Regions from separate parts of the Homo sapiens genome. Here region 2 is linked to region 1. Evidence: fine-mapped expression QTL. A gene starts in region 1. The other region holds a variant in brackets. All regions are shown on one strand. Distances are from middle to middle.

Evidence for each region. PIP is the estimated chance that this variant, and not a neighbour inherited with it, causes the effect.
Region 2: its variant is fine-mapped to the expression of IL17B in fibroblasts (GTEx, PIP above 0.99).

Annotation. Positions count from the first base shown.
Region 1 is chr5:149,375,611-149,386,081 of GRCh38, reverse strand. It overlaps IL17B (interleukin 17B), which reads left to right and starts at 6,790. Exons shown (of 3, transcript NM_014443.3): 1 at 6,790-6,877; 2 at 9,057-9,346. The coding sequence starts at 6,857. LOC101927046 (a long non-coding RNA gene) reads right to left here and starts at 3,846. Exons shown (of 2, transcript XR_245875.4): 1 at 3,730-3,846; 2 at 1,723-1,891. RefSeq lists enhancers at 419-919, 2,805-3,516, 4,943-5,655, 6,008-6,542.
Region 2 is chr5:149,399,965-149,410,789 of GRCh38, reverse strand. It overlaps CARMN (cardiac mesoderm enhancer-associated non-coding RNA), which reads right to left and starts at 3,945. Exons shown (of 5, transcript NR_105060.1): 1 at 3,712-3,945. It also overlaps a transcript of IL17B not described here. RefSeq lists enhancers at 1-339, 2,456-3,456, 5,307-5,897. The variant G/T (reference allele first, on the strand shown) is at 6,663.

The DNA.
Region 1 (10,471 bases):
GCAGACTTTGATAAGTACCATCGGTTTGTAGCTTAATGTTCGGGGTGCAGGCCTTTGAACCCAACCTGCAAAAGAAGTCCTTTCTGCCCCACCCATGAGCCCCTGCCACCCATGAGCCCCCAGGACTCCTCTCCCTACGCAGCTGCTGGGAGATGTTGACGTTTTCTTCTCACGTCCCCACAGATGTGGCCTCTTCCTCTGCCAGGAGCGGCTCTGGGGGGCTGAAGAGGACTTTTTTTGTTCTGTACCCGTTTCCTGCTTCTGCTGAGGGCAGGGTTGGGGCCTTCCACCCAAAACAGACCCAGACCCACCCAGCCAGAGGAGACGCTGACAGCTTTGGGGGAAAAGTCAGAATTCCAGATCTTGTGAATCCAGACGTCCTGTAAACTCTGAGCAGAGGATAAACATCCCCCGGGACTGAGGGGAGGACACTCCAGTGGGCAGGGGGCCTGGCGCCTCTGTCTGCCCTGGAGACAGGCTGTTTATTCCACGTCCCCCACAGGCTCTCTCGCACTCCTTCCTGTCCCAGGTCTGGGTGAGTTACAGCAGGCCTGACAGCCCCACATGGGGGCCTGAGGCCTTGGACATCAGATCTGGACCTCTCAAGGCTAGAAGGGAACTTTAAAAGCTCAAAAACTGGCCGCGTACGGTGGCTCACGCCTGTAATGCCAGCACTTTGGGAGGCTGAGGCGGATCATGAGGTCAGGATTTTTTTTTGTTTTTTCTGAGATGGAGTTTCATTCTTGTTGCCCAGGCTAGAGTGCAATGGCACGATCTTGGCTCACTGCAACCTCTGCCTCCCAGGTTCAAGCGATTCTCCTGCCTCAGCCTCCTGAGTAGCTGGGATTACAGGCATGCGCCACCACGTCCGGCTAATTTTGTATTTTTAGTAGAGACGGAGTTTCTCCATGTTGGTCAGGCTGGTGTCGAACTCTAGGTCAGGAATTTAAGACCAGCCTGTCCAACATGGTGAAACCCTGTTTCTAATAAAAATACAAAAATTAGCTGGGCATGGTGGCGCATGCCTGTAATCCTAGCTACTTGGGAGGTTAAGGCAGGAGAATTGCTTAACAGGGACCTGGGAGGCGGAGGCTGCAGTGAGCTGAGATCATGCCACTGCACTCCAGCCTGGGCTACAGAGCGAGACTCCATCTCAAAAAAAAAAAAAAAAAGCTCAACAACCCCTCCACCCCACAACACACACCTGGGCCACTCCTTCCTCTTCTAGAATCTCCTGGCTAGTGTTCTGCTCTCTGCTGATAGAGAGATCACTCTTTTCCAGGGCAGTCCATTTTATTTCTGGGACTCTCTGGCAGTTAGAAAGTGCTAGAATTGAGCTGACTAGAATTGCTCTGTGCCACCTGATTGGGAAGAACTAAGGACAATGCATACAACAAAATAATAGCAGGGCCATTCCCTGTGCCAGGCACTTGCCACATATAATCTTGTTAACCCCCCACCTCTCTTTCAAGGACATAGGCTCAGGGAGGTTAGGTCACTTGCCCAAGGTGACTTAGCTGCTACATAGCAGGGATGAGGTTCAGAGCACTCTGGTTCATCGTCTGTGCTTTAAATATTAATCTATACTGGCTCTTCATAATCAAAAAGCAAAAATAGCACATACACCCACAAACACACTATACATCAAAATCAGGCACATATAAAACCAAACCAAATTACAAAATATCAGCCCGAACTTGCCAAATATTAAGTACCATTATGTGCCAGGCAAACAATAATTTTAATGATTAATGCATTTTAACAACCCCGTGAGGAAACGGAGGCCCACTGAAGTGAGGGGGGTGGACATGACCATATAATAAGGGGCAGGGCAAATGTCCAACCACCATTGCCTGAAGTCTGCCGTGCTTTCCCCACAGGAGGAGGGCTTCTGCAAAATAAAAAAGAAAGCTTTTATAATTATAATTATTTTCAACAACCAGAGTTTTAAAAAATGGACTGTGCATCCTCAGAGAGAAATGATATTCCTAGAGAGATGATACCCAGCAAAGGCACTTAGAAAGCGTTCCCGCTTTGCTAAGGGCTGGATGAGGTATCCCCTACCTCTGATGGCCTGTGGGTGGTGAGTGCTAACAAGAGACTTGGTACAGTGTAGAGTCAATTTGCAACCCAGAAACACAAACTTGGTGTTTTCAAGTCTGGATGCTCTGCAGAAGAGAGGCCTAGGCGACCCAGTCTCCAGTGAACAAGACCACCTCTTGGAGTCCTACCCCAACTCACATTTCTTTGACTTCCCCCTGTGGGGAGGAGACGCTGGCACCTGGCCTGGGCAGAGGGTCATGTCGACGTGGCAGCCCCTCTGCACACCCCAGAGGCCGCCCATTCACCCAGGCCTTTCCCTTTTTTGAGAACTGGGAGCTTGCTGGCTGGGGCTGTTCCCACCAACAATGTTCCCGTCCAGGGATCTTAAAATAGCACCTCTTGGCTGGGGCTCTGGAGTGAGCAGCGAGGCAAGCATTTGTGCAAATATGGGCCTGGGAGAAGGACTCCTACCAGGGAGGGAGGGGAGGGCAGCATGGCAGGAGAGCCAGGACCTCCCTAGGGGGCTGCACCCTCCTGGTCGCAGCCAGCAAAGGCGCCGACTAGCCTCTTCCCGCCTTCCCTGACCTTACTGGGTCCACTTGGGCAAGTTCTTAGACCAAATCCTTCAGGTCCCCCTGGCCTTGCCAACGCTCTAGGGTGGGCCCGCTGGAAATAGGCACCTTTGCATTCTTCTGCTGGTTCTAGCCTTGTCCCCACTTCGTAATGCCCTTCCTACCCAGGAACGTACTAGAAGCATTCTTGAAGGCCCAACTCAAAACTCATTTTAACTGTAGGAATGACAGTTGCAGCTACCATTAATGGGGTACTTACTTTTGCCAGGGACTGTGCTAAGCGCTTTAACGTGCATTATCTCATTTGATCCTCACAACAATCCACTGAGAGCCAAGTTATTATTATCTTCACTTTGCAGAAGAAACTAAGGCTCAGAGAAGTCAATTAACATTCCCAAGATGACACAGCAGTGAAGGGGCAGGGGCAGGGCTGAAACTCAGGCCAGCCCATCTGTGGAGGCTGACCTCTGCCCTCCCGGCTGCACTTCCTTCTCCAGGTCCCTCTGCTCTGGCCTCCTCCTCTGTCCCAGCATGGCCTCCCTGTATTATAGTCAGTTTGATTCAATGTATCAATATTTTAGTTCACATACCAGGAATGCTGTTGGGTGCCCCACGAGCACCCTGGGAGCTCTCGGATCCCCTTGATGACTTGGGCTTGGGCGTGGGTTTAGTGAGCACCCGAACCTACCGGGTTCAGGTTGTTTGAGGCCATGGGTCAAGGCTGAGGCCATCACAGACCGTGCTCAATGACCAGCTGACCAACTGGACATTCCCCCTCCACCCCTGGCTGCCGCCCCTCTCCTTACTCCACCGCAGGGAGCAGTGTGTGCAGGAGTCAGACAAACTTGCTGTGAATCTTCTGTGACTTTGGGCAAGTGGTTAACCACGCTGAGCCTCAGTTTCCCCATCTGTAATTCAGAATAAAACTAGGACCTCACCCAGTGTTATTTGGAGGATTTCATGAAGCATTTAGCTTATGGCCTGGCAGTCAGTAAGTGGATATTAAGTAGCAGCTATTATTGTTACTGTTATTTTCTGTGAATTAAGGTGTCCAGGTGCCAAATGCCTGAGGCCTGGCACACAGCAGGTGCTCAAAGTAAAGGCAATCACTCACTCAGCAGACAGAAGCCCTCACCCGACCCCTGGAATCGGTGACCCCGACACCTGGAATCGGTGACCCCGACACCGCCTGTGTCATTCCTGGCCGGCTCTGATGTCTCCTAGGCTCTGGTCCTCATCAACAATAGGGTCACTCTGGAAGCCAGGCACAGGCGCAGGGCCCCACCCACTCGCCCCATCCCCTCATTCTCAGTCCCGGGCCGCTCTTGGAGAAAGAGGTGGCAGAGTGCAAGTTCCCTCAGGGTCAGTACATTTTTCAGGGTTGGCTGGCTTTCTAGTGGCGCCATCTGCTGGTGAGTGCAGCACTGCTCCTGGCGGGGCCTGCTGCAGAGGGCTCTGAGCGAGACCGCGGCCACCCACTGCCCCTTCCCCTGTAGCTCATCTGCCCAGTCCTTCATTCACGCATGCTGACCACCCTCTGCGTGTTAAGACCCAAGGACCCCAGCCTCACTCGTGGGGTGGGAGCCCTGGAAGCCCAGTTCCTGCACCTCCCTCTCAGGCCTGGCACTGAGTCCTGGGGCTGGGTCCCACAGGCCTGCCTGGGTTCACACTCAGGACATCAAAAAGGACAGATGACCCTCCAGGGGTTTCTAGAAACCAAGACTGGAAGAAGGGGTCTCCCTCCTGGTCTGAGATGGTCCAGGAATGGGAAACCCAATGACTGTTGCTGGGCCCATGCCTGACTCCTCACAGCACCTGCCAGGGGACCCCAAAGCTCCCCTCCCCACTGTGAAGGATCTGGGGCCCCCACAAGGACTGGCCTGCCTCTTTGGTCTCCACCAGACCAGCAAGGAGGCCCAGCCTGGCCCAGAGCTGTTTGTATAAAGTCTGAGGGAAGAACAATGAATGACTTAGGAGACGGAGTTCTGCTCCCAGCTCTGGCACAAACGCACTGTGTGAGCTGGGGTAGGACCCTCCCTTATCCAAGTCTCCTTGTAGTAAAATGGGTGGGAGGAGGGGGCCAGATGATGGGTGAGGACCCGTGTAGCTCCCAAACTGGCCTCGTGCTAAGATGCAGATTTTTGCGCTGCTACTTCAGCATCTCTGGGGCTGGGACCCTGAAATCTAAAGTAGCAAGCACTGCAGCTGGAGCAGGGGAAGCTGACAAGTCAGTCCTGGCTTGGGGAGGCAGAAGTGAGGGGTGCGTATTTCCAGCAGGTAAGGAGAATGTGTTGGTTTCAGGGGTCCCCCATACCCCAGCATCCATCTTTCAGTTTGCCACTGTTCTGTGGATATGGGAGGGTCACCCCAGTTGCATGTCTGTGGGACCCCACTGCTAGCAGCAGCAGAGTGTGTGCAGAGAGCCAGCACAGAACACAGCCAGGCCGCCCGGCCAGTGGGGCTGGGGCTGGGACAGCCTGCGGTGGGGGCGGGGCCCTTGTTGCCTGAGGAGGTATTTTCAGAGTACCCCTCCCTCTGGAGTTTCCAACGGTAGAATAGAGCCCTGTCTAGTATTTGACCAAATATGGTGGCATCTCTCATGCTCGAGCCCCAGCCAGCATCTCAGTTATGCTGTGGAAGCCTGCCCCGGACAGATTAATCTTGTGACATTCAGGAGCGCCTCTCACCCTGCCTTCTTCCCCTCGGACGATTCCTGTAAATGGCCAAGACCGGCCCTCAGCACGACAGGGCCGTCCTCAGTATCTGTTCACAATGCCCCTCCTCTGTCCTCCTCACATTCCCTCCCGCCATTCCTGCCTCCCTGGGTGGATGTGCCCGCTTACATTGGGCTGGGCTGTTCACCTGAGGTGAGAGACATTGGCCAGAGGAGGTGGTCAGTTGAGCATGTGATTCCAGGACCTTTGGACCCTGAGGTCATCCGACCTCACAAACTTGTGGCCTGAATCTTGGAGGCCTAGACCTCTCTCAGCAGCCAGGAGGGTGGGCCTGAGGGGGTTGAAGGGAGAGTCAGTAGAGAAATGAGAACCATGCTACCTCTAATGCTAATTAGAACAACTAATGTTTATAATAATTATACAATTATTTTATAATAATCTCTATAATAAATAGCTAAGTGTTTATTGAGCACTTACTATGTGCCAGGTACTGTTGCCAGCTATTTAACATAGGTGATTTCCTTTATTCCTTATAGCAGTTTTAAGAGGGTGCCATGATTCTTCCCATTCTAGAGATGTGGGAACTGAGGCTCAGAAAGATTTCAGGAGGGAATGGGCCAGGCCACCGTCTACTTCTGGATACACCCACCATTTTATGGAGGAGGGAACTGAGGCTGACAGTAAAGCTCACATGCAGCCACACAGTCTCTGAGAGCGGAGACCACCCCAGGAGGGAGAGTGCTGTGTCAGGAAGGCCAGGACAATCAGCCGTAAGTCCTCATGGATCTGAAACTTGGCCAGAGTGAGGGCGTACAGCTTCAGAAATATGTTCACAGCAGGCTGAAATTGTGCGGAAAGTCTCCCAAGAAAAACAACATGGGGTGGTGGATAGAGCCCTGGATGGGGACAGGGTGAGAATAGCAGCTCTGACACCTCTAACTCACTGTTAATAGTGACAAGTCCCTTTCTGGCTCCAGCCTCAGTTTCCTTGACTGTGATCTAGAGGGGTGGGGCTTTGGTCTCCTAGGGCTGCTGAACTCACCTGAGGCCGGCAGAGGCTGGAGTGCCTGAGGCTGTTTCCCTGGGAGATGGGGCCTGTGTCCCACTCCTGGCCAGCACAATTTGAGAACATTTGCTCTCCTGACCAACCAACGGCCCATCCCTCCTCCACCCTCAACCCCTTGCCATCCCCTAAGCAAACGAAGCTGATTGTCTTAGCTGGCCCTGTGGGTGCTGGCTGGGCGGCCGGCCGCAGGCCACAGGCGGAGGTGCCACCGGCCAGAGCCCCACCAGACACACAGGGCATTGTCCCTCGGTCAACAGCCCCTGGGCACCTCAGCTCGGCTCCTGGCCTGCCCCCACGCCCCTCACCGCCTGCCACTGCGCTAGGCTCAGCCAGCTGGGGGCCCAAGGCTCCCAGCTGATGACGAGCCCACCCACTCACTCCCCCAGCAGCCCCCAGTTGAGCTATAATTGCTTCGCTCCATCCTGTTGCTGCCATTCTCTCGGCGGCATCTGGGGTTCCAGGCGGGCAGCAGCTGCAGGCTGACCTTGCAGCTTGGCGGAATGGACTGGCCTCACAACCTGGTACGTGGCGCTTCCCTGCCGCACCCCCACCCCTTTTTAAGAGCCCAAATATGTCAGTTTTTCTTTCCTATTTATTAATGGCTGCCTCTGTTTGGTTTAGAATCTGCAGAGGCAACTTCTCTGTCTTCTCCCCCAGGACTAGAAAGAAACAGAGACTGGTCACTGTAGCCATGGCCAGCAGTGCAGGCTCCTGAACGGGGCTCAGCCGGGGCACACTGAAGCCTTTTCAGACCAGAGGCGTCTGGGGAGATCCCGGCAAACTCAGTTATCGGGGTTTTTCCAAAGAGACCCGGCTTCTGAGGTCCTGGCTGTGTGACCTTGGGCAAGTCCTTCTGTTTCTCAGTGTCCCATCTGGAGAGTGAGGGAGGGGGACTTTGATTCTATTCTACGTTTCTCCGAGTGGAGAGCCAGAGTTTAAGAATGCCCTGTGAGAAACTCTAAAGAGAGAGCCTATTGTTAGGGAGACATTTTTTCTGCACTAGAATCTAGGACCAAAAAGGAAGAATTTAGCACTTGAATCTCTGTTGCAGATTTTGTGCCAGCAAATACCTCTGCCAAGAGGGGCTCTGCTGAAACTTGTTTCCTAGGGTCAAGACTTGCTGGGTAGCCTGGATAAAGCAGGCATGGGCCATGGGGCTGTGGGGCTGTGAGGTGAGGCATACAGGGAACATATGGAGCCTATCTCAATTTAAGAGGAGTCAGAGGTGCCTCCATCCTGGGAGCTCTGCCTCACACGCAGGCACTGTCCCTTCTCTCTGGATTCCTGGGGAGTCTGGCTTCTGCCGGGCCTGAGTCCTCTTCCTTGTGAGCCAAAGGCTTTCCTGATACTCTGGTGCTGGGAGGGAGAAGTGGATGGCAATGGGTGAGGGTGTGTGTGTGTGAGGAGGGCTTGGGGGATGGCTGGAAGAGGGAAGGCTCAGGGGAGAAGGGCAGTGCAGGCGGACAGGACATCCTTAGCCCATAACTTGCCCATCTCCCCAGCTTCATCTCATCCCCTCTTCCTCCCACCCACTCTTAATCAACATTCCATTCGATTCAGCAAAGTTCTTTTTTCTTTTTTTTGAGAGGAGTCTCGCTCTGTCGCCCAGGCTGGAGTGCAGTGGTGTGATCTCGGCTCACTGCAAGCTCCGCCTCCCGGGTTCAGGCCATTCTCCTGCCTCAGCCTCCCAAGTAGCTGGGACTACAGGCACCCGCCACCACACCCGGCTAATTTTTTTGTATTTTTAGTAGAGACGGGGTTTCACAGTGTTAGCCAGGATGGTCTCGATCTCCTGACTTTGTGATCTGCCCGCCTCGGCCTCCCAAAGTGCTGGCATTACAGGTGTGAGCCACCACGCCCGGCCACAGCAAAGTTCTTAACCAGTTCAAACCTCCTCTCTCATCTTCCCCCAACCCACCCCTCCCACACCTGCAAGACTTCAACTCCCTCAGCCCATGCCTGCCATGCCTCACCTGACATGTCCCTTCCCCAGAAAAGTTTCCCAGGCCATTGTCCCAGCACAGCTAAGCAGGAGGCCCCACTCTTCTCCAGCCACACCCTGAATGGGCCCATCCTGGACTTGTCGCTAGGGAGACTTGGGTGTTTGTCTTCTTGTTCACTGTCTTCCTTCTTAGACATAAATGACAGAAGGGCAGCGATGGGGACAGCCATTCATTTACTCAGTGAGTGTTCACTGAATGCATCACGCAGACACGGGAGATATGACAGTGTGTGGAAACTGACACGTGCCCCCACGGAGTCCATGCTGAGTTGGGGGCAGACACATAAAAGAATTGTATACACAAACTTTAAGATTGAAGTCATGCAAGAGGTGTGTGGGTTATGAGAGCCCAAGAAAGTCCAGAGGCATCCCTAAGAAAGCGATGCTAAAGCTGACACGAGGGGTGGGAAGGTGTCCAGGAGGTGAAGAGGCAGAATGCTGCAGGCAGAGGCTGTGCAAAGTCCCTGTGGCAGGAAGGAGCATGCTGAGTGTAAGACTGAGAGAAGACCAGAGGCTGGAACACACAAGAGAGAGGAAACAGGGGGTAATCTGAGGAGGGAGAGCTGGGGGATGGTAGGCAGAGTCAGACCTGAGCCTGGGAGACCCCTAAGAGCAATGGGAAAGGACCATGGACCCCAAGTCTTGGCCCAGATAGAGACTTGGCTCTCCCACCTTTGACCTGTGGCTTTCCTCCCCAGCTGTTTCTTCTTACCATTTCCATCTTCCTGGGGCTGGGCCAGCCCAGGAGCCCCAAAAGCAAGAGGAAGGGGCAAGGGCGGCCTGGGCCCCTGGCCCCTGGCCCTCACCAGGTGCCACTGGACCTGGTGTCACGGATGAAACCGTATGCCCGCATGGAGGAGTATGAGAGGAACATCGAGGAGATGGTGGCCCAGCTGAGGAACAGCTCAGAGCTGGCCCAGAGAAAGTGTGAGGTCAACTTGCAGCTGTGGATGTCCAACAAGAGGAGCCTGTCTCCCTGGGGCTACAGGTAGGCTGGGCAGTGGTGGCAAGCTGTCTTTGGGGGGTGGGGACCTTTCCTGTGCCCCAGTCATTGTAATGGTTAAGATCTCAGATTCAGAGGTCTGGGTGCTTGGGTTCGAACCCTAGCTCTGCCTCTTACTTGCCTGTGAGGCTTTGGGCAAATGGATTAGCCTTTCTGGGCCTCAGTTTCCTCAATGTAAATGGAGGCAACAGTAGTACCTCAGAGTCTTGTTAAGTGAGATATCCATGCAGAGCACTGCCCTCATTGTTCTTCAAGTCTCCATGGAAGTGCCTGCAAGGCTTTCCCCAGATGTCACTTCCTCTGCTCTGTGGGCCTCGGACGCCCTTCTCAGGTGTGGCGCTTCCATGCGGTGTTCCAGTCTGTCTCTTATGCTGGACCTGGGCCTTCCCAGTGCCGGCATCAGAATCACCTAGGGATTCCCATGCCCAATCCAAACCTCCAGCGGTGAGGCCCAGGAAGTGCTATTTCTTATAGCTCCACGTGATCAGGGCGCACAGCAGGCTGCGATTTGGGAATCAAGACCCATTGCCCTGGATAACGATGGCAGCAGCGTCCTCTCTTGGTTGTAGCTCCGCTTCCTTGCTCAGTGCCTGACCCATAGTAAGGACCAAAGATGAAGGAAAGGGCTGACCCTGAGGTCCTCACTCACAAACCCAGGCCAGAGATTTTTCAGCCACATGACATATACCCTGAGACTCTAGAATAGCACTGTTCACCAGAACTTTCTGTGATGATGTAAAGTCCAGTATGGTAGCCACTAGCCTCATGCAGCTACTGAGCACTTGACATGTGGCTACTGTGACTGAGGGATTAACTTTGATTAATTTTTTTATTTTTTGTTTGAGACAGGGTCTCACTCTGTTACCCAGGCTGGAGTACAGTGGCATGGTCTCGGCTCACTGCAGCCTCTGCCTCCTGGGCTCAAGCAATCTTTCCACCTCAGCCTCCCAGTAGCTGGGACCACAGGCATACCTGGCTGATTTTTTTTTTATTTTTTGTAGAGACAGGATCTCACTATGTTGCCCAGGCTGGTCTCACACTCCTAAGCTCAAGCAATCCACCTGCCTTGGCCTCGCAAAGTGCTGAGATTACAGGCGTAAGCCACCATGC
Region 2 (10,825 bases), 25 kb before region 1:
GCATGGAGGGCAAAGTTCTAGACGCCCTCGTGCACAGGAGCGTAGCAGCCTACAGAAGGCACACCTACGTTTTTATTTCCATGGCTTCCTTACATTTTTTATTATATAAACTTGATACATGCAAAATGAAGTGTGCAACCCATATGCTTCAAGGAAACTGATGGCTTCAAGTGTGGTCAAGAAGATGGGGATGCTCATACACAGCTGATGGAAGCATAACCTGGTTCAGCCACTTCAGAAAGCAATCTAGTGCTCTCCTGTAAAGTTGACAGGCCTGCACTCCAGGACCCAGAACCCCTTCTAGCTATAAGCTCCAGAGAAACTCTGGCTTATGGGTCCTAGGAGATGTGGACAAAAATGGTCATCACAATTCGAACCAGCCTTCATCATGGTTCTTCGAACCACCCCATGGCGCTGAGCCCCCCCGGAGAGTTTAGTTGGAAAATTGCAGGAAGAGGCCATGCCCAGGCACGGCCCAGCAGTGAGGACCTCAGAGATTACCTCCCCGAACCCCTCAGGCTCAGCTGGGAATCAGAACAGCCACTTGAGTCAGTGATGGTGTGTGGTGTGGAGCCTGGATCTTTCTATTCCTCAAGGATAGGTGTTGGCTGAGTGCAGTGGCCCATGCCTGTAATCCTAGCACTTTGGGAGGCTGAGGCTGGGGGATCACTTGAGCCCAGGAGTTTGAGGCCAGCCTGGATAACATGGCGAAACCCTGTCTCTACAAAAAAACACAAAAAATTAGCCAGATGTGGCACACATCTGTAATCCCAGCTACTTGGGAGGCTGAGGTGGAAGGATCACTTGAGCCTGGGAAGCAGAGGTTGCAGTCAATTGAGAAGAGTCACTGCACTCCAGCCTGGTTGACAGAGGGAGACCTCATTTCAAAAAAAAAAAAAAAAATGGATAGGTGTCAGGTGTCAGGTGTCATTTTCCCCCAGAACTGGCCAGGCTGGGAAGGGGCTGATTTTGCCCAAAGGGCTGTGGTGTGGCTGTGAGGGACCAATGACAAACTTTCTGTTGCGGGGCAGCAACAGGGTTGAAGGGAGAGCAGTGGCCTCAGAGCTAGAAGGCTTGGGCTCAGGCTCCGGCAGGGCCTCACTCCTGGCCTCCGTCTCCTCTGTGAGGTGGGATTCTTCATCACTGCCCTCAGAGGTGTCGGGGTGGGCAGCCCAAGAGTGTGCGTTCTGCAGATGCATAGACTAGGTTCAAATCCCCTTCACCACTTTTTAATTGCGTGACATTGGGTAATCTGCAGTGGTTTCCTTCTCTAGAAAGTGAGGGTGATGGAATGATGCTGATTCCTGCCTCACAGGAATCCTGGGAGGATTAAATGATAATGCAAGCTGTTCAGCACAGTGTCTGACTCCCAGAAGTCTCCCATACATATTCTGCCCCCTTCCATGAGGTCTGTTGGAGGGTCTCCAGGAAGTTTTGAGGTAGCTAAGAGGCAGGGCAGGAGGTGGGAGACTCCTGGGGGAGTTAGCAGCCCCAGGGGCAGCTGGCACACACAACTTAACAACTCATGAGCTGTGTGACCTCAGGCAAGCCACCTAAACTCTCTTTGCCTCAGGTACCTCATCTGTGGAGTGGGGATAATAATTGCCCCTTCCTCACTGGCTCTTGTGAGGATTAAATGAATTAGTTCATGTGAAGATCTGAGGTAGTGCCTGGACCTCATAAGAACTCCACAAATAGTGTCATCTATTTCTCCTGATTTGCACCACCTTATGGAATCCCTGGCTGGGCAGAGAGGCAGGTTCTGTTCCACCTCTGCCATCAGCTCGCTAAATAACCTAAAGCAGTGCTTTCTCTCTGTGGATTCCGTTGCCTCGGCAGTTTGTGAGAGTCCTAGGCCGCCCTACAGCCTGGCATTTCGCAAACTTCCACATGCATGGGAATTCATGGGGTGCTTGTAATGCAGATTCCTAGGCCTCACTTGGGGTCCCCCGTCAGTGGGTGAGTGCACAGTGGTTCAGATACATTGCCCACACAATGCCCTAGAAAGGCAGGAAAGGAGATCCCCCCCAGTCCTTCAGGCATCTCAAGCTGATCACTTTCCTGTGTCCCACAGCCTCTGACTTTTGATTCCTCCTGCCTCTTTCCAGAGCCTGTTCCAGAGCTCTTCAGCAACTCTGGGCATTCCCTGGCCGGGTTTCATTCCCACTTCTCCCTCAACATAGCTCAGGGTATCTTGCCCGCAGGAGGTGTGGGCTCTGACTGCGATGTAACATCAGCCCCATTCATCCTGCTCTATGTGCCTACATCCCTCACTCCTCATGACAACCATGCAAGCTCAGAATTGTACCCATTTTACAGAGGAGGAAGCTGAGGCTCAAACAGCAAGCAACTTGCCCAGGGTCACTTGTCCAGTAAGTAAACAAGCCAGAATTGGACCCAGGCAGTTGAATTCAGAGCCTCCTTCTGAACCATGATGGCCTTGGGTCTTGTGTGACAAGAAGCGGGAAGGTGGAGGGTACAAGACAGAGGCCGGTGCTAGAGGACTGTTCTGTTCTGGGCTCCGGATGTGGCCAGAGTGTTTTCAGAGGAGCCCGACTCCATGCTGTCTGTACATCTTCAAGTTCCAATCCTAAGCCCCTGCCTCTACCCAGCCCTGCCTCCCATCACAAGCCTCCTGCATTCCTCTAAGTCCCCTGGCCCCACTGCTTCATCCCGCGAAGCCCTCTGCCATCTTTTCCATCCCTTACCTACTTCCATGTCCCACATTCCTGTGTGGTTGAATCCAGAGATCAGTCCTTTCCCCACCAGAGGCTGGTTGCAGCCAAGTTCATCTGGAGGGCTCGGGGCACCCCTCTGGCCAAGCCTTCAGTCACAGAACCTTCAGCTACTCTCCCTCACTCAGGCTCAACCTCCAAAAGCTCCCACAGGACTTCATCTGCTTGGACTCCAAGCTTGTGGTCAAAGTTCAGACTCGGCTCAGGGACCTCCTGGGGGAACTTCCCAACACTGGCTGTCCCTCAGGCACAAACAACTCAGAAGCCACATCTGCAGAGGGACCATTTTGTCCAATGGCCTTGCTATACAGATGGGAAAACTATGGCCCAGAGAAGGGAGGGGGCCAGCCCAAGACCACAGAGCCGGGCACTGAGAGCAGAGCTGGGGCCGGAGCTTAAGTGCCCCCGTCTCCTCTCACCAGCATCCCTTCCCATTGCTCCATGTGCAGTCAGCACCCAGCCTTCCCAGGATCTCTGCCTGCCTGCCAGAGCCTGAGCTTACATTGCCTCTTCCCCAGCTTTGTTTCTCGAAACCATTATTTGAAAACCATTTTCCTTGCCAGGAGCCCCAGGCTCTTGGAATTACAAAATCAAAGCCCCACACAATGAGGAAGAAGCACTGCCTATGTAGAAGCCAGGGAGACTGCCTGAGACTCGGGTGCCGAGGTGAAGCTTGGGCTGATAGGATGTTAACTCTGTGCACTCCCTCTGCACCTTCTTCCCCCAATTGACTACAACAACAAGGAATCCTAGAAGCCAACAGGACCATAGAACTAGAGCCGATCAGCTGGATGGATGCTTAGAGATCATTGACTCCAGCCCCTGTACAGATGGGGAAACTGAGACCCAGAGAATCTGTGTCCAGAAAGGGACAGAGCCAGTTAGCAAGACAGCAAGACCCCCAGATGCAGCATCCCCCTAGGGAAATTCCCAGAGGCCCCCACCCACGGATCCCAGGTCTGCCGTTGGTGCTTACCTTTCCTGGGGTCTGGTCCAGGTGTGGCTCCTTGGGGCCTGGAGACGGGAGCCAGCCTGTTTGGGGAGTGGTTGGGGGTGTCACTGCTTCTCAACTAATTAGACCCAGCCTCTGGTGCCCCTCGCTGCCACAGGGGCATTTTTAAGCAGCTGGCACTGAGCCCCCCTCCCCTTAGTCCCTTGCCTGCGGCTCCCTGGCCACAGAGGCCACTCTGCCTTTTACCTTATATGAGCTGAAGAGGCAAGCCCCGTATTGGGGCGAGGCGGGTGCTGAGCCCTCCCAGGGCCCCCCATTGGCCCAGGCACCCCCCACGTGACTACCTTGCCTTGACCTGCCCCCGGTGCTGAATGTTGCTTTTACCCCCTAAGGAAGGAGTGGTTGACAATTTTCATATTTCTTCTAAATTTGGAGATTTCAGACAATGCTGGGAGCCTTGGCTCCAGCCACCAGAGGCCCATGTGGAAGTCATTAAGCCTGAGAAGGGGGGCAGGGGAGAGAGGGAGGCAGGGAGAGGAGGAGGAGGAGGAGGAGGAGGAGGAGGAGGAGGAGGAGGAAGGGGGTGGGGAACAGAGTTCTGAGGGTTGCCAGTTGTCAGCCTGGGAACAAGAGCAAACTCCCTGGGAGAAAGCTGTGTGAGAATTTCCTTCCTCCCCCAGCCCCTGTGTCCCAGGACTGCAGTGGGAGTTCTGAGACTTTCTGGGAACCTCCAGTAGGGGAGACACCAGTCCTGGCTCCTGGAATCTGGGTGATGGGAATTGGGGGAACAGGAGAACATGGGGAAGGAGAGCCCAGACCGTGGGAAGCTACTCCCATCATCATGCAAACGAGGCCTGGGCCTGACAGGGAAGATCCTGACCCAGCCACCTGGCAGGGTCACCACAGGGCAGGGGTTTGAATGTGGAATGTCCTTCAGGGGGCTCTCTTTTCCCTGCCACCGCAGTCCTGAGAAATGCCCATCTCTTGCCGGAGTCCCTCTTTCTCCTTTTGCTTGGCCACCTTGGCCTCCTACAGATTCTTTAGTGTTTTTCATGCCTCAGGGCTTTTGCACTTGCATTGCTCGCTGCCAAAAATGCCTTCTTCCCAGAGCTCATGCTGCTCCTTCCCCTGCTCCTGTCTCCCACTCAGAAGTCTCCTCTGGAAGAGCCATTCCCTGGCCCCCTCAGTATTCTGTCACACCCTCTGCTTGCTTCCCGCTTCGGACTCGCCACGCATGTGCCTATCTTACATGTCCACGGTTCTAGTTTCTTGCTGGCTAGCTCTTTCATGAGAGTGTGACTTCCCCTGGCAGGCTCTGTGTCCCCAGGCTTCCTAGAGTGTCTGTGAAGAAAGGTCAGAAAACACAAATCAAGGGATCACGTGAACCAGGCCTCGGCTGCCAGCCTAGGAGTGTCGTGCTGAGGCCCATGGAGGTCTTCTCCCAGGGGCCAGCGGGGCCTGCTCCCAGGGCTGCCACCGGGTCCTGCCTTCCACTGCGCAGAGCTTCCCTTCTGCAGCCAGGCCTGCTGGACCCCAGCGGTCTCTGTTCACGGCCTCATTCACAGTTCCTCAGACCCCCAGCCTGGATGGGCCTGCCAATCCCTCTCTCCTCCTTCCAGGCCAGAGGCTGTGGTCTGCCTGTCACCGACCCTGGGACCCCCTCCAGCAGCACACGGGGCCTTGTGACATCCTGAGTGGGGCCAGTTGAGGGCCCGAGGGGGTGGGGTGCTGAATCAGACACTGTCCCTGACCTTGAGAGCCTCCCAGTCCAACAGGAGGATTAAAAATGCCATGTCCTTACCCCTCCACCCTCCCTCATTCCTTCTGAGGAAAGAATTCTGTTGGTGTTGAAAGGCCGGTGGGCTTCTTCCTGCCTTGGCCACTTCCTAGCTGTGAGGTCTGCCGCTCCCAGCCTCCCTTTCCCCCGGTGCCTCCCTTTCCCCTTGGGTAAAATGGCGAGAATCACACCTGCCTTCAGCATTGCCATGAGGGCTGGGCGAGGTGGCCCGTGCAGTCCTGGAGGAAGGTGTGAGCAGGACTCGAGTGAGACTGGGCTCAGCCCTGCCCCTCTGCTCCCAATGGTGGGGCTGGGGAAAGCCCTCTGGGAACTAACTTCTGTGAAGATCACTGTCTCCTCTGTAGCACAGAGTCAATGGTTGTGAAGGTTTAGCCCCGAGCCTGCTTCAGAGTGAGTGCTTGATCGATGTAAGCTATGACTCAGAGTTGCGGTGCGAGAGCTCTACACGGAGGTTTCGCCACTAATGTCACCCCCTTCTTTTCCAAACCAAGAAGATGAATTCCGTTCATGTGCATGCCCTGGGGTGCAGGTCAGAGATGGTGGGTTAGGGAAGGCTTGTGACACCACTCCCCAACCCTGCACAGTGGCCCAGTCGAATACTCCAAAGCACCACTGACAGACTCTAGAGGGAAGATAAAGCCGGCCTAACAGAAACATCGTGTTTATGTAAAGTCCACTCTGGAGGCTGTGAAACGTAAGTTATGCTTCTGTGAGTTCTGCTACTGTATAAACAGTAGAGAGTTCGTCATCAAGAACAAACAGAAAAACTAGCAGTGCAAGCTGTGGGGAGACCCCCACCATTGAAATGCCCAAAAACTCTGCACCTGGCCGAGTGCTTTAGTCGGCTACGCCCATGAGTCAATGGGCTTGGTCAGCAGAAAGCCCATTGCGAGAGGCAAGACAAGGAACTGAAGCGACCTGGAGACAGGTCCTTGAATATCAGGAGAGAGGTGTTCTGCCACCAGACTAGCTCAAAAGGCGAAGTATATGGCAGCCATTTGTGACTCAGTGTCCATAAATCTGTCTCAAATATTTGGAAGCTGTTTCTATTTCCTGCCCATACTGTCTCTTGGGAGTTATGAACACTTTACATTATGAACAACTCATTCTGTGAAGTGGCTTTTCTTTCCAGACTGGGAGAGGCAGCCTTGAAATCCCTCCATTCCTAGAGAAAACA[G/T]GTCGACAGACTGCGGCTTGGTATGTGTGAGTAAGGCTTCTTGGGAGGTGAAGGGAGGTTCCTGTTAGGAGCTGAGTATGAGAGTGAGTTTGCATCGTTGAGTCCTGTGTTTTCAGATGGTGTATTTAGTCAGGGGGAGGGGGACCCTGTCCAGGAGAATAGAGGACTCATGGGCCCTGGGAGAGCCGGCTCTACTTCTCTACAGAGTGACCAAGGAAGACCTTGAATTGGTACAGTTGGAACCTTTAGGAAGATGGAATCTAGATCCACATGGGAAATACTTTTTAAGCCAGTGGAACTAACCAAGGATGAAGTGGGCTAACAAGCTGTCTTGGTAAAGTGGTGAGTTCCCTGTTATTAAGGGAATGCAAGCAGAGGCTGGACAACTTGGCAAGTCCCTTCCCAGCCCTGAGATCGTATGGGCTTCACTTCACCCTTTCTGTTCTCACCTCCCAACCTGTCCCTAATCTCCAACCCTGAATTCACACTAATTCTACCCAGGAGGCTCAGCTCAGAGGTGGCCAGTTGGGAAACAATTTTATATTGAAAAGGCCCATAACCCCTGAGTTAAAAATCAAGCCCCATATGTTCTCTTCAATGAACATAAAACTTTTTTTTTGTTGGTAGAGTTGGTATGTGGGAGGTGGGAATATGGACAATTAGTGATGAAATGCCTATAATTATTTGCCTTGCAATCCAACCATTTTCTCAAAAGCATCATACCATGGAAAGCTGCCCACATGGCTAGGCGTGGTGGCTCACACCTGTAATCCCAGCACTTTGGGAGGCTGAGGCAGGAGGATCTCTTGAGCCCAGGAGTTTGAGACCATCCTGGGCAACACGGTGAAACCCCGTCTCTATAAAAAATACAAAAAATTAGCTGGGCATGGTGGACTGTGCCTGTAATCCCAGCTCCTTGGGAGGCTGAAGTGGGAGGATCACTTGAGCCTGGGAGGCAGAGGCTACAGTAAGCCGAGATTGCATCACTGCATTCCAGTCTGGGCTATAGAATGAGACCTTGTCTCAAAACAAAACAAAACAAAACAAAACAAAACAAAACAGAACAAAACAAACAAAAAACTGTCTACAACTTGCTATTGAGTTTTTTTTTTTTTTTTTTTTTTTGAGATGGAGTCTCACTGTGTAACCCAGGCTGGAGTGCAATGGTGCGATCCCGGCTCACTGCAACCTCTGCCTCCCGGGTTCAAGCGATTCTCCCACCTCAGCCTCCCAAGTAGCTGGGACTACAGGTATGTGCCACCACGCCTGGCTAATTTTTTGTATTTTTAATAGAGATGGGGTTTCACCGTGTTAGCCAGGATGGTCTTGATCTCCTGACCTTGTGATCCGCCCGCCTCGGCCTCTCAAAGTGCTGAGATTACAGGCATGAGCCACCGTGCCCGGCACGAGTTTTTGTTCTTTTTTTTTTTTTTTTTTTAAAAGCATGGTATTAAAGAAGATAAATTGTATAATCCCTTTTAAGTCAAATGATGTGTACGTATGTGTGTGTCAGGAGAGGGTAAGTGTGAGAGTAGCAAGGCGCCCTGCTGGAGGTTGAATTTGTGTGTTGTCTCTTCCCTAATCTACTTCACAGATAGGCCAGGACAGGAAGTCACTGTGGAGTGCCCAAAGGTAGTATCTTTGGGAATGGCAGGGGAGGGTGAATTAACTCATTGTCCTGAGAGAAGGATGTAACACACCTTTTATGTTGATCGCCAGGGAAGAATGGTTATGGGAAGGGGAACAATGGTGTAGCCCAGTCCTCCCAAATCTTTGTGGGAAAGGCTTGCATTGAAGGGCCCTGGGTGGTTGGCTTGGAGCCCTTCTCTGGTCTAGGGGGAGCACCGTCTTCCACTACCGTGGCTGCTTTGGGAGTAGTGAACCTGACTGACAACTCGAATATTACTCACCAAGATTAGCTCCTGCTCGGTTATTCATGTCCTTCCACCATGGTCAGTGCACTGATACAAGACCACATGGGTCTGGACACCTCCTTCCAAGACGCCTGTACGGGAACCCTCTGTGTGTAAGAGGGAGGCAGTGAAAACCCTGTAGAGAGCAGCTGGGCTGCATGCTGGACTTCCTGCTATCACCAGCACATGGGGCTTGAACACTTGAAGTTTCAAGGAAAACCGGGCCACACTAATTGCACCCTGAACAGTGCAGGGTAACACATGTGACCGTGCATGTAAAATGCACCGTTCGATGTGTGAAAGAACGTTCAACAAAATAAGAAGAGAAGTTATCTCTGGGTGGAGGGAATTTGGGGTGATTTGGGCTTACTTCACTATAGTTTTCTGTATTTGATTTTTGTCTTGATTTTCATTGAGCATTTCTTGTTTTTAGGCAATTATCACATTTATTTATTTATTTGAGAGGGTTTCTTCCTCTGTCACCCAGGCTGGAGTGCAGTGGTGCAATCTTGGCTCACTGTAACTTCCGCCTCCTGGGTTCAAGTGATTCTCCTCCCTCAGCCTCCCTCAGCCCCCTAAGTAGCTGGAATTACAGGCATATGCTACCACACCTGGCTAATTTTGTACTGTTAGTAGAGATGTGCTGCCACACCCGGCTAGTTTTGTACTGTTAGTAGAGATGGGGTTTCACCATGTTGGCCAGGCTGGTCTTGAACTCCTGACCTCAGGTGATCCACCCGCCTCAGCCTCCCAAAGTGCTGGGATTACAGGCATAAGCCACCATGCCCAGTCCAATTATCACTTTTAAAAAGGCATACCACGAGACCTTGACAGCTTACTTTGTTTTAGAATTTATGTATGGCAACTGTGAAAAATTGAAAATTTAATTCAGTGTCCATTGTCTAATCAAGTCTTACCAGTCAGGGTCCATGTGCAGGAAAGCAATTATTCCTGCTCATTTGAGCAGAAAGGGATTTACTACAGGGAATCGGAAGCTTATGCAATTAGGAAAATTAGAGAAGTGGGCCCTAGAAAGGACCCTTGGGAATGACTTTGAAAACCACAAAATTGTCCTGTCAAGGCAGATGCTACCTCTACTGCCATCAGAAGTGATGTGATGGTTAATTTTATGTATCAATTTGATTGGGCTATGGGATGCCCAGATAGCTGGTAAAGCATTGCTCCTGGATGTGTCTGTTGGTGTGTTTCTGGAAGAGATTGGCTTTTCAATGCAGATCGCTTTTTGCCAATGCAGAGGGGCAGCATCTAGTCCATCGAGAGCCTGACTAGAACAAAAGGGTGGAGGAGGGGTGAATTCTCTCTTCTTGAGCTGGAACATGTGTCTTCTTCTGGCTTCAGACATCAGAGCTCCTGGTTCTTGCTCCTTGGGACTCTGGGACTTACACCAGTGGCACCCCTGGCTCCAGCCCTTTGAACCTGGACTAAGTCATACCAGCAGCTTTCCTGGTCCTCCAGCTTGCAGGTGGCAAAACGTGGGACTTGCTGGCCTTTATAATCATGTAAGCCAATTTCCGAGATAACTCTCCTCTTCTGTGTCTCTATATATCCCGTTGGCTCTGTTTAGCTGGATAACTCTGACTACAGTGGACTCTGGAGGGGGAGCTCCACTGTCATGTGAAGAATACACTGCTGCAGCTGTGTCCAGGGTTAGGAGGTCACTCCTGCCTCTGCCACACCCACAAAGCCAGCGACCGGTTGTGTCAGTCAGGCAGGGCTGCTGTAACCAAACACTCCATCCAGACAGGGTGGCTTAAATGATGGGAATTTATCTCACAGCTCTGGGGGCTAGAAGTCCGAGATAAGTGTCAGCAGAACTGGCTCCTTCTAAGGCTGTGAGAGAGAATCTGTTCCAGGCCTCCTAGATTCTAGCGGCTTGCTGGCAATCTTTGGCCTTTCTTGGCTTGTAGATGTATCGCCCTGATATCTGCTTTCATCTTCTCATGGTGTTTTCCCTGTGTGTGCTGTTTCCAAAGGTACTCTTTTTATAAGTCATATTGGATTAGGGGCCCACCCTAATCCAGTCTGACCTCATATTAACTAATTACATCTGTGGCAACCCTGTTTCCAAATAAGGTCAAATTCTGAGGTGTTGAGGACTGGGAATTAAACATAGAAATTTGGGGAGGGGGGACATAGTTCAACCCTAAACATGTGTAAGGGACCACTGATGTGGACAAACCCATATAGGGGTGCTTGCCAGTAGCTACTGTGAAGAAGCAGGAAGGTAAC